3 separate regions of the Homo sapiens genome follow, and all the other regions are linked to region 3. Evidence: fine-mapped expression QTL. A gene starts in region 3. Each other region holds a variant in brackets. All regions are shown on one strand. Distances are between the middles of the regions. Region 1 overlaps NHEJ1 (non-homologous end joining factor 1). Region 2 has its middle 8.3 kb from the start of ZFAND2B. Region 3 holds the start of CNPPD1 (cyclin Pas1/PHO80 domain containing 1).

Evidence for each region. PIP is the estimated chance that this variant, and not a neighbour inherited with it, causes the effect.
Region 1: its variant is the best candidate, but not a certain one, in a credible set for the expression of CNPPD1 in B cells (CEDAR, PIP 0.50).
Region 2: its variant is the best candidate, but not a certain one, in a credible set for the expression of CNPPD1 in whole blood (TOPMed, PIP 0.57).

The regions. Positions count from the first base shown.
Region 1 is chr2:219,134,423-219,138,422 of GRCh38, reverse strand. The region is part of intron 5 of NHEJ1 (non-homologous end joining factor 1); the gene reads left to right. Among named protein-coding and RNA genes, the nearest start is that of NHEJ1, 24 kb to the left of the region's middle. The variant AG/G (reference allele first, on the strand shown) is at 2,136.
Region 2 is chr2:219,196,445-219,200,554 of GRCh38, reverse strand. No RefSeq gene overlaps it. Among named protein-coding and RNA genes, the nearest start is that of ZFAND2B, 8.3 kb to the left of the region's middle. The variant G/A (reference allele first, on the strand shown) is at 2,309.
Region 3 is chr2:219,174,392-219,178,662 of GRCh38, reverse strand. CNPPD1 (cyclin Pas1/PHO80 domain containing 1) reads left to right here and starts at 1,738. Exons shown (of 8, transcript NM_015680.6): 1 at 1,738-1,903; 2 at 2,332-2,440; 3 at 2,991-3,072; 4 at 3,555-3,675; 5 at 3,757-3,885. The coding sequence starts at 1,835. It overlaps RETREG2 (reticulophagy regulator family member 2), which reads right to left and starts at 388. Exons shown (of 9, transcript NM_024293.6): 1 at 30-388. The coding sequence starts at 310. RefSeq lists silencers at 104-353, 404-483, 1,474-1,523, 1,594-1,803, 1,924-1,983 and 2 more and an enhancer at 193-693.

The DNA of each region.
Region 1 (4,000 bases), 40 kb after region 3:
TACATGTAAATAGATGAGTAGCCTATATTCCCATTCTACCACCTGCCTTATTTGTTTGACATTTATGTTTTCTGAAAGGCAGTCCCAACTTCGGGATGAAGTGTATATAAACCTTGAATCTTTTATTATTGAGAAATCCCAGAACCTCTCTTTTTTTAGAGCCAGTTAAGAGACTAACACCTCAAAAGTCAAAAGAATAAGTACCTAACAAAATCCTGGAAAGAAAATTAGTCTTAGAGTCACAAGGGCTCCACTTCCACAGTTAGAAGGGCTACCCTTTTACCATGTACCTGTTGTTCAATATGTAGAGAAAGCCATAGGATTCAGGGTGGTTTTTTTTTAGTGTCCATGTGGGCATCGTAAAAAAGGATAAGTCTAGATGCATGAGAATATGCTCCCTCCTATTATGTGTGTCAGTTCTCCGACCTAGAAAAACTTGCAGTTAATTCATCCTTTCGGTATTCGGTCAGGTGCATGCGGGCTGAATGAGGTTCTGTGAGCATATAAGGTATGATAATATTGCCATCAAAGAGCTTATAGTGCTTAGTGAATGATAATAAGGGCCATAGTAGTGGAGTGATTAGAAAAAGCTTTCTATAAATGGCAGGACGTGAACTGGGCTTTGATTTAGGCTTTGATTGAAAACTATGTGGAAGACATTTTAGGTGGGAAGCACTTGGGCAAAGGATGGAAAATAAGAATAAGAATGGATGAGGATTAGTAGAAAATAAAGTTAGCAAGATAATAACTTGAGGCTAAATTGTGGGGGCCTTAAATGTTGGGCTGGCAGATTAGTGTTTTATTCTGAAGGTGGTTTTCAGTTTTTTTTGTTTTTTTTTTTTTTTTTTTTTTGCCTGTAACACATTTATTTCTCCATTTAGTTCAATTGTTAACGACTGTCATTATGTGCTGTGATTCTCAAGTGGGGACACATCTCCTAGGAGGGAGATGGGGCACATTCTCCTTGCACTTATTAATTACTGTTGCAGATAGTGGGAAGCCATTGAAAGTTTTGACTGGAGAATTGACATATGAAGGTGATCTTTAGGAATATTAGGCTCTTGGTCATATGCTTATGTGATTTGAAGAATAGTGATGCCATTGATAGACTAGGAAGATCATGGGTGGGGTCGGTTTAACCGTGGGCATATAAAAGAATTGTTTTCCTTACTGAAAATATGAATGTACCAGTATTTGAGCTCTGGAATGAAAATCTCCAGGGAGGAAGGTATGGCTGTGCATGTTTCTCAACTATATTTTGTTTTTTCTGAATTTCACCTTCTCTTTGGGGTTTTCTCACTGTGAATCCTGTAGTAACCAGGGGTTACCACTTCTTTTTTTTTTTTTTTTTCTCAAGAAGAGCTAAAAAGACCTCTTTCTTTATTTTCCTTTTGCAAAGGCTTATAAGGGCTTATGTTTTCAAAAGGAAATTTATTAAAAATTTTAAAGTAATTTTTTAAAAAAATTGTTAAAATTTTGAGAGAGAAAAAAAAGGAAATCAATATAGAAAATACAAATGGGGCCAGGTGCGGTGGCTCAGGTCTGTAATCCCAGCACTTTGGGAGGCTGAGGCGGGCAGATCAGTTGAGGTCGGGAGTTTGAGATCAGCCTGGCCAACATGGCGAAACCCCATCTCTACTAAAGATAAGAAAACTAGCTGGGTGCAATGGTGGGTGCCTGTAATCCCAGCTACTCAGGAGGCTGAAGCAGGAGAATCGCTTGAATCTCGGAGGCAGAGGTTGCAGTGAGCCGAGATTGTGCCACTGCACTCCAGCCTGGGCAACAGAGCAAGACTCCATCTCAAAGAAACAAACAAATAAAGAAACCAAGTAGGGGCTACGTGTGGTGGCTCACGCCTATAATCCCAACAGTTTGGGAGGCTGAGGTGGGTGGATCACCAGAGGTCAGGAGTTCGAGACCAGCCTGGCTAACATGGCGAAACTCCATCTCTACTAAAAATACAAAAATTAGCCGGGCTTGGTGGCACAGGCTTGTGATCCCAGCTACTTGGGAGACTGAGGCAGGAGAATCACTTGAACTCTGGAGGCTGAGGTTGCAGTCAGCCAAGATTGCATCACTGCACTCCAGCCTGAGCGACAAAGCGAGACCTTGTCTCTAAAAAAAAAAAAAAAAAA[AG/G]AAACCAAGTGGGAATACATTATGAGAAAGACACTGTCTCAGAAAAAGAAAGAAAGAATACAAAGGGGGTAAAAATTATCCATTTTGGGTTTCTGATTCTAAGAATCCCAATAGCAAAGGAGTTTCCCATATCTCAAATTCTCTTATCCTAAAAAATCTCAAAACCAGATATTACAAAATCAGATATCTGCAGGGGCCAGTCATATTACATAAACATGTATATCAGGCTGGATAGAAGACAACAGAGAGTTGTAGGGGCCTGTGGAAAACGAAATCATGCATGTCCCTGTATCTAGACCTGGATAGGCTAGCACAGTTTAACAGACTGCGCTCCAGGGGGTTGTATATCTTACTTTACTCAAAGGAAGTTACCAACTCTGCCAAAGTGAAAACTATTTTTTCCTCTGTTTTGCTCCATCAAATCCACCATTAGTCTCTCATTTGGTTTATTTATTTATTTATTTGTTTTCTAAAAGAGACAGGATCTCACTATGTAGCCGAGGGCTGGTCTTGAACTCCTGGGCTCAAGCAATTTGCCTGCCACAGCCTCCCAAAGTGCTGGGATTACAGGCATGAGCCACACTTACTTGCTTTAAATCTCCAGTCTAAGAAATCCATTTGGTTCAGATTTGATTTGTGAGGCAGTGATGATGTTTGATGTCTTACTTCTTTACTTTTGAGACGGAATCTCACTCTGTCCTGTAGGCTGGAGTGCAGTGGGGTGATCTCGGCTCACTGCAACCTCTGCCTCCTGGGTTCAAGCAATTCTCCTGCCTCAGCCTCCTGAATTACTAAGATTACAGGCACCTGCCACCACGCCTGGCTAATTTTTTTGTATTTTTAGTAGAGACAAGGTTTCACCGTGTTGGCCAGGCTGGTCTCAAACTCCTGACCTTGAGTGATCCACCCACCTCGGCCTCCCAAAGTGCTGGGATTACAGGCGTGAGCCACTGTGCCCGGCCTTGATGTCTTACTTCTGACAAATACCTAGCCCTTTTGGGCCTAACCTATAAGCTTCATGTACCTCCAGAGCTTTTTGTGAAGATTTACACAGTTGAGTCTCCCTCCTCTTTCCCCTAGTAGAAGAAGGGTTTCATAAAAATCCATTTGTTACAGTATGGTAATTTAACAATGCCTTAGCCTATTTTTTACAAAATCAGTGGCTTATTTATAATTAGAGTTAATTTAAAAACATAAGATGAAGATTTTTTTCACATACATGTTGAATTTTTTTTTTTTTTTTAATTGAGACGGAGTTTCACTTTTGTTGCCCGGCTGGAGTGCAATGGCACGATCTCGGCTCACTGCAACCTCCGCCTTCTGGTTTCAAGCAATTCTCCTGCCTCAGCATCCCGAGTAGCTGGGATTACAGGAGCCCACCACACCACACCCGGCTAATTTTTGTATTTTTAGTAGAGACGGGGTTTCACCATGTTGGCCAGGCTGGTCTCGAACTCCTGACCTCGTGATCCACCTACCTCAGCCTCCCAAAGTGCTGGGATTACCAGCGTGAGCCACCGCGCCTGGCCACATGTTGAATTTAAATTGATTATGGGACGTACAAGTGAGAATGCCTAGGAAAGAGTTGAAAAACTAGGGTTGAAGCTCAGGTCGAAGAAAAGGGTCTACAGAAAATAGATTTGAGAATCTTCTACAAAGAAATGATATTTGATGCCATGAGAATGGATGGATCTTTAGCTGGGAAGAGTATGGAAAAAAGAACAAAGGCCCAAAGATTGAGATATGGGGAATAGTCATAACTGGAAGGAGTAATAGCCAGTGATGGAAATGTGAGACAGGAAGATAATCAGAATAGCATAGTAGATTAGCCAAGAAAGGGTAACTAACAAATATAAAGTCCATA
Region 2 (4,110 bases), 22 kb before region 3:
GGACAGACTCCACACGCGCCATCTTAAGAGCTGTAACACTCACCGCGAGGGTCTGCGGCTTCATTCTTGAAGTCAGTGAGACCAAGAACCCACCAATTGCGGACACAAGCTCATTTTAGATGCCTAGTTTAGACAAATAGTTCAGATTCATGTAACTTTACAGGTTATACAGTGATTTCATATATATTCAATCTGCTAAAGTATGTGTGTGTGTGTATATATATATATATATATATATATATATATATATATATAAATTTTTTTTTTTTTGAGTTGGAGTTTTGTTGTTGCCTCGGCTGGAGTGCAGTGGCATGATCTCGGCTCACTGCAACCTCCACCTTCTGGGTTCAAGTGATTCTTCAGCATCAGCCTCCCAAGTAGCTGGGATTTCAGGCACCCGCCACTCGCCCAGCTAATTTTTGTATTCTTAGTAGAGAGGGTTTCACCATGTTGGCCAGGCTGGTCTTAAACTCCTGACTTAGGGTGATCTGCCCGCCTCAGCCTCACAAAGTGCTAGGATTACAGGCATGAGCCACCGCGCCTGGCCACAATCTGCTAAATACCAACTGGAGTTGTCAGGTCTTAGATGCAGCAACTAGTTCAAAGTGAGAAGGACCGAATACAGTGGCTTTCCAAGTTTTTCAGCTTTGACCTACGGTAAGAAATATATCTTACATCTCCTCCCAATGTATATAAATATAAAATCAATGTTGTTTAAGCTGCACCGAATTGATTGCACAGCCCACTAATTTCATAACTCCACGTTTGAAACCGATGCTCTAATGGGAAGGTGCAGGACACGGAAATGGGAGCCAGTAATGGCCAAGAGTGAGGCTGGGGAGGCACAGTGAGAGTGCTTCAGGCAGACAAGATGCCAAATGCACTCTAGCCAGAGGCGGGGCCTGGGGAGAGCAGCACAAAGGTTATGGATGACCTTCAAGTAGAGCTCAGAGGAGTCTGAGGGTGCAAGAGGTGAGAGGTGAAAGAGACTCTGCTAAATGTGGTAAAATGAATGCATGTGATTTTATGTTTGCTTCCTTCCCAAACCCCACCAAAATAACAGTAAAACAATAAGGAGAACAGAAGCGAAAACAATACATGAAGATATGACAAAAACATTTTGGGAGCTAAACATCTGATGGAAGAAGGAAAACTGACTAGGGTCCGAGGAAGTTGAAACGGTGGGAACAACAAGCGGCAGGCCAGTGTTGACTTCGTTGCCGCTGAAAGGCTTGGGACTGGGAGCATCAAGCTTTCCAAAGGTAGGGGTGGAAGGAGGGGGCTGGAAATGAAGGGTGAGTTTAAACTCGACATAAGGAGCAGTTAGACCCTCATGTTCCCTCCTCCAGCCTGGGCAGCTGGGTGACTGCCCCTCTCCCACTGCCCCCCCAGAAAAGGCAGGAGGTATCTGGGTTCTCTGGAGAGAATGAAGCAATGGGTCCCTGGGCTTCAGGTTGTCAGCCAGCTGAGGGTGAAGAGGGAGAGAAACTGCAGCTATTTTCTCCTGACTCTAGAGCACTAGCAGCCAGGTTCATGGTCCCCAGGCCAGAGGCTGCAGGGTTCTTCTCTGGAAGAACCGAGCAGCCTAAAAATTCTCTGGGCATTGAGGGATCTCAACACAATGGTTGTCTCTGCCACCTCACCCTGCAGGGAAGATGCAAATCTTCGAATTTTAGAGAGCATTCAGTTGGCCTTTAAGTGCCTCTGCTCAGATATGAAGGAGCAAACCAGGGTTTGAGGGAAGTCTCTTCCATGAAAGACAGAAGCCAAAATAAAGACATAAATGGTGGTGAGGAGGAAAACAAGTACAATGCAGGGAATGTAAAAATATAATTTATATAACTAGACTACTAATAATATAATAATATAACTTATTAAGAATGCTCAGGGCTGGGGGCAGTGGCTCACGCCTGTAATCCCAACACTTTGGGAGACTGAGGTGGGCAGATCACCTGAGGTCAGGAGTTCGAGACCAGCCTGGCCAACATGGTAAAACCCTGTCTCTACGAAAAATACAACAATTAGCTGGTGTGGTGGTGGGTGCCCATAGTCCCAGCTACTTGGGAGGCTGAGGCAGGAGAATCGCTTGAACCCAGGAGGCAGAGGTTGCAGTGAGCCAAGATGGCGCCACTACACTCCAGCCTGGGCAACAGAGTGAGACTCTGTCTCAAAAAAAAAAAAAAAAAAAAAAAAAGAGAATGATTAGGCCAGGCGTGGTGGCTCACGCCTGTAATTCCAGCACCTTGGGAGGCCAAGGCAGTTGGATCACTTGAGGTCAGGAGTTTGAGACCAGACTGGCCAACATGGC[G/A]AAACCCTGTCTCTACTAAAAATACAAAAATTAGCTGGGCTTGGTAGCAGGCGCCTGTAATCCCAGCTACTCGGGAGACTGAGGCAGGAGAATCACTTGAACCCGGGAGGCAGAGGTTACAGTGAGCTGAGATAGTGCCACTGCACTCCAGCCTAGGCGACAGAGTAAGACTCTGTCTCAAAAAAAAAAAAAAAAGAAAATGATTAATATTAATACAGTGTACTCAGGAAGCAGATTTTTTTTTTTTTTGAGATGGAGTTTTACTCTTGTTGCCCAGGCTGGAGTGCAGTGGCACGATCTCGGCTCACCACAACCTCCACCTCCCAGGTGCAAGCGATTCTCCTGCCTCAGCCTCCCTAGTAGCTGGGATTACAGGCATGCACCACCATGCCCGACTGATTTTGTATTTTCAGTAGAGACGGGGTTTCTCCATGTTGGTCAGGCTGGTCTCGAACTCCCGACCTCAGGTGATCCACCCGCCTTGGCCTTCCAAAGTGCTGGGATTACAGGTGTGAGCCACTGTGCCCAGCTCAGGGAGCAGATTTTTCATTTAACACACAGGAGCAAAAAAACATAAAAAGGGATATTCAAGCCAGGTGTAATGGTGTGTACCTGTAATCCCAGCTACACAGGAGGCTGAAGCAAGAGGTTTGCTCAAGCCCAGGAGTTGGAGTCCAGATTGAGCAACATAGTGAAATTCTATCTCATAAAATGGGGGGTGGGGAGGACAGGGGGAAGGATATTCAGAAAATAAAGCTCTTAGACATTTTTAAAAATATAATCACAGAAATATAGCACATTCCAAAGAATGGGTACAACATAAAGTTGAGAAAATATAGGAAGTAGAACAAAAAAATGTAAAGGAATGGAAAATAAGCAAAGTAGAATATCAGTCCAGGAGTTTCAAGATTTTATGAACAGGAGTGCCCAAAACAGAAACTGGATGGGAGGAAATTATTTTTCAAAAAGTAGAGGTTAGAAGCTGGGCGCGGTGGCTTACTCCTGTAATCCCAGCACTTTGGGATGCTGAGGTGGGCGGATCATGAGGTCAGGAGATCGAGACCATCCTGGCTAACATGGTGAAACCCGGTCTCTACTAAAAATACAAAAAATTAGCCGGGCGTGGGGGCGGGTGCCTGTAGTCCCAGCTACTCGGGAGGCTTGAGGCGGGAGAATGGCATGAACCCAGGAGGCAGAGCTTGCAGTGAGCCGAGATTGTGCCACTGCACTCCAGCCTGGGCGACAGAGTGAGACTCTGTCTCAAAAAAAAAAAAAAAAAAAAATGAGTCAGCCTTGGTAGTGGACGCCTGTAATCCCAGCTACTTGGGAGGCTGAGGCACGAGGATTGCTTGAACCAGGGAGGCGGAAGTTGCAGTGAGCCGAGATCCTGCCATTGCACTCCAGCCAGGGCGACGGAGGGAGACTCCGTCTCAGAAAAAAAAAAAAAAAGAAAAAAGAAAAAGAAAAATAGCTGGGCATGGTGGCTCACGCCTGTAATCCCAGCTACTTGGGAGACTGAGGCAGGAGATTGCCTGAACCCAGAGGGCAGAGGTTGCAGTGAGTCAAGATCACACCACTGCACTCCAGCCTGGGCTACAGAGGGAGACTCCATCTCAAAACAAAACAAAACAGGCTGGGTGCGGTGGCTCACGCCTGTAATCTCAGCACTTTGGGAGGCCGAGGCGGGTGGATTACCTGAGGTCAGGAGTTTGAGACCAGCCTGGCCAACACGGAGAAACCCATCTCTACTAAAAATACAAAAATTAGCTGGGCATGGTGACACATGCCTGTAGTCCCAGCTG
Region 3 (4,271 bases):
GGCCCCGCCCCCTCCTCCGCGGCCGTTACCAGAAGAGGCCGTTGAGCGCGGCCGCCGTGACCAGGCTGTGCAGCGGCTTCTCCCACACCAGCAACCGCTGCGCCGCCGCCAGCACCGCCTCCCAGCCGCGGAGCCGCAGCCACAGCGTCGTGGCCAGGCGTCCCACCGCCTCGGCCGTGGCCGCCTCCTCCTCTGCCTCACTGGTGGCCTCACTCATGCCTAGGCTCAGACCCAGACCCAGGCCCAGGCTCAGGCCCATCCCCGGCCCCCCACCCGCGCCAGTGTTACCCCCGCCACCGCCGCTCGCCATAGCCCCGCCGCAGCCGCCGCCCGAGCCCGCGAGGAGCCAGGGCTGCGCGGCCGCCGCCGGGGGCGCGTCAGGCGGAAGGGGGCGCCGCGGAGGACAGCAGAGGTTGCGGACGAGCGTCACGTGACTGCGGAGCGCTGAGCCCGTCACGTGACGCGGCCTAACCCCCCCCCCCCCGGATAGGGCGGGCCGCGCATGCGCCCCGGCGGCTGCCGCTGACACTGCGCCTACACAGGTTCGTTTTCTGGTTGACGAAGTACCCCGGGTTCCGAGTCCGGGTCTAGGTCCAGGCAGTCGAGCCCGTTTTCTTATCCCACAGTAGGCAGGGCGGCTAGGGAGTGTGGTGCTGCCCCGGTATCCCCGTGTGGGGCAGGAAGTGGGCTTCCAGATTCCCAGTATCCCCGGTAGGGTCTGCTTCTGCTCGCTCGGGAAGGGCGGTGGCCGTCCCATTACTCAACCAACCCTCAACGCACTGGTCCTCCCAGTTCCCTCCCCTCAGTGGGTAAACAAACACACACCAGCGCTTGACTCGACAGACTCGAAAACAACATCTACTCAGAAAAGTTGTTTCTTTCCTATCTCCTTAAACTTTCCCACTTCCACATATCGGAGCTTCTTCCCACCTCGGCCTACTCAAGCATGAGATCGGAGGCGGGAGGTGGGTTTCAACACAAAACCTTGGGTAGATGCAGTTTACTTTTGGGTGGACGTGTTGACACGTTTTGAGGCCTTACATTCGCTTAAGATCACAGAATTTCCTCAGTAGCCTTAGGTTTAAAAGTTCAAATTACAGTAAAAAAAAAAAACACCCTGAGTTTCTCTTCCTTTTCATAGTTCACCCACTGCTAAATTTCCTGTGTGTCCTTTCAGACGCTTTTCATATGCATTGCTGAGTATGTATAATATCTCTCCTAAAAAGCAACTGGGAACAACTTCCTGTTGTGCGTTTCGTCTTATTCACATTAACTTCTCCATTGCTACGCCTGGCTTGTTCATCCTCAGTGCGGCGTGGTCCCCCCTACGAATTGTCCCCATTTCTCAGAGGCGCCTGGGGCTTGGCCACGTTCCGTGAGACCAGGAGTTCGAGTCCGGTTCCTGCCCGCGGGTCGGGGCGGGAGGCTGGGCCAGATGGGCGGCAGGAAGTGCCAGGCGCTGACTTGCAGGCGGCACCCCCGCGGCTTGTAAACGCCGGGCGGACGCGGCACAGGCGGAGTACGCGCCTCGCAGCCGCATCTCCTTTCTGCTCCGCGAGGTGAGCGTCGCACGGACGCTTGACACCTCCCTTCCCGGGCCTAGGGCCCCCGCGCGCCGCGCCAAGCCCGGGGCGGAACAGGAAGAGGCGCCCAGTTCAGCCCGGGCCCCGCCTTCCGCCGCCGGGGGGAGGGAGCTGCGAGGGCGAGGGCGAGGACGGCGGCCCGCCCCGGGGAGGCAGGCTGGCAGGTGGACAGGCGGGCAAGGACAGCTCCGCGAGCCCCCTACAACTCGTTTCCTTCCGTTCACCTTCGCAGGGCGGCGACTGGCGGCGCGATGGACCTGACCGGGCTCCTGCTGGACGAAGAAGGCACCTTCTCCCTCGCCGGCTTCCAGGACTTCACGGTGAGTGGGGGTCCCGCCCCCTCCCCGGCCTCCCGGCGCGCCCCTCCCGGCCTGAGCGGCGCTGCGAGCTCGCCTGACTGCTGTGCCGGGACTGGGCGGCAGCTGCTCGAGCAGTGCTTCCTTGAGGCCGCGGCTGCTTGGGCCGGGAGGGAGAGCCGCGGAGTATAGGAATGGGCGTAGGGGTGGCCACACGAGGGCCCTTCTCGGAGAACTTCTCCCGGGGAACCCTCGATGGGGGTGGGGGCATTCCTCCCTCTATGGACCAGGCTGCCATTGGCAAGCGATTTACAGAACGCGGGTCTGGGTAAGGCACGGGCCCCCTAGCAGCGAGGCCGGCCTGTCCCCTGCCCCGCCTTCCAGCCCAGAGCCAGGATCTGCATCATACCTTTCCGTGCCCTTCACCCTCCGCTGCCCCTGCCCTGTTTCAGTTCCTCCCAGGACACCAGAAGCTGAGTGCCCGGATCCGAAGGAGGCTCTACTATGGCTGGGACTGGGAAGCCGACTGTAGCCTGGAGGAGCTCTCCAGCCCGGTGGCAGGTTAGGCAGTGTTGTGTGACTGGACAAGTGAGAAGCATGAAAATGGGATTGTCATCAGGCAGAAAATGGCTCGAGGTTTGCCCCGTGGCTACACTGTCTCTTCATTGCTAGCTCGTTGGTACTTGGTTCAAGAGGGCAGTTTGCATTTCCCATTCTTTTAGCCCAAATGAATAAAAAACATTGCTGCCACATATATCTATACAAATCACTCTTGATTTATATATTGAAAAGCTAATTTTCGAAGGATATCCATCATATGTTCCCCAAGTAAACAAGGCATGTTTATGCCACAGATGAACAGCAGTGACAGATAAATCTGGATAGTTTGATGTGACAGGGCAATAAGCTTTCCTGTTAGAATGAGCTGAAATTCGAACTTGGAATGGGCTTTTTGTCTCAGTGTGTGAGAATTTGATCTCTATTTTGTTACTATGGTCCTGTCCCCAAGGCCTCAGAAAATACAGATCTGGGTCTTCTGCTAGCAGTGGGGACTGGTGTGTTGGGTGTGGGTGCTTGTTTGCTCACTCGGCCTTCCTTCTGTCCCTTGCAGACATTGCTGTCGAACTGCTCCAGAAGGCAGCCCCCAGCCCTATTCGCCGACTCCAGAAGAAATATGTAGCTCATGTGTCCCGGTGAGCCTGGAAATGAGGATAGGATGAGAGTGTTTGGGCCCTAGAGAAAGGGGAATCGTCTTTTCTTTCTTTTCTTTCTTTCTTTTTTTTTTTTTTGAGACAGTCTCACTTTGTCACCCAGGCTGGAGTGCAGTGGCACAATCTCGGCTCACCGCAACCTCCGCCTCCTGGGTTCCAGTGATTCTTGTGCCTCAGCCTCCCCAGTAGCTGGGACTACAGGCACACACCACCGCCCCTGGCTAATTTTTGTATTTTTAGTAAAGACGGGGTTTCACCATGTTGGCCAGGCTGGTGTCAAACTCCTGGTGTCAGTCCACCCACCTTGGTCTTCCAAAGTGCTGGGATTACAGACATGAGCCACCGTGCCCAGCCAGGAATAGTTTTTTTCCAAAGATAAGAGGTAAAGACAGGAACGAGCATCATAAGACTTGCAAGAGCTGAAGGACCCTTGGGTTTAATTAGTGATCCTTTCTACCACCCAGGGAGGCATGCATCTCCCCATGTGCTATGATGCTGGCTCTGGTGTACATTGAACGGCTCCGGCACCGAAACCCAGACTACTTGCAGCATGTGTCATCCTCTGACTTGTTCCTGATCTCCATGGTAAGACACCCCCTCCCCATCTCCCTAAAGAGCCAAGAGCCTGCTATGAGCTCTGCTCCACCACTTCTGGTTCCTCTGCAGATGGTGGCCAGTAAGTACCTCTATGATGAAGGGGAGGAGGAGGAGGTCTTCAACGACGAATGGGGAGCTGCTGGGGGTGTGGCCGTGCCCACTCTCAATGCCTTGGAGAGGGGCTTCCTGAGTGCCATGGTGAGCAGCTGTTCTCTCTCTTGCTCAGTTTCCCTGGCCCATCTTTAACCGTCCTTTAGTCCTTTGTTCTCTCTCAGTCTTCTGTTGGTTCGTCATTTCTCTTCCTGTCCTCCTCCTGCCTTTGTGTTAGTGTCTTCCTTTCCTATCTCTTCAGTACTAACCAGTTTTTGGAGATTCGTAGAGCAGTAAGGCCAAGAGCAGAACATTTCCTCGCCTCCTCTATTCCTCCAGGGCCCCACAGGGTACACTCTGAGTCAGAGTTTATCCTATTGGGTTCTGAATATTTGTGTCCATACTTTCTCTGCCCCTAGATGTTTAGCTCCCTGTGGACACAGACCATTCTCAGGGTCATTTTCTCCCCTCTTGCTTAGTGGAGAGTATAATGT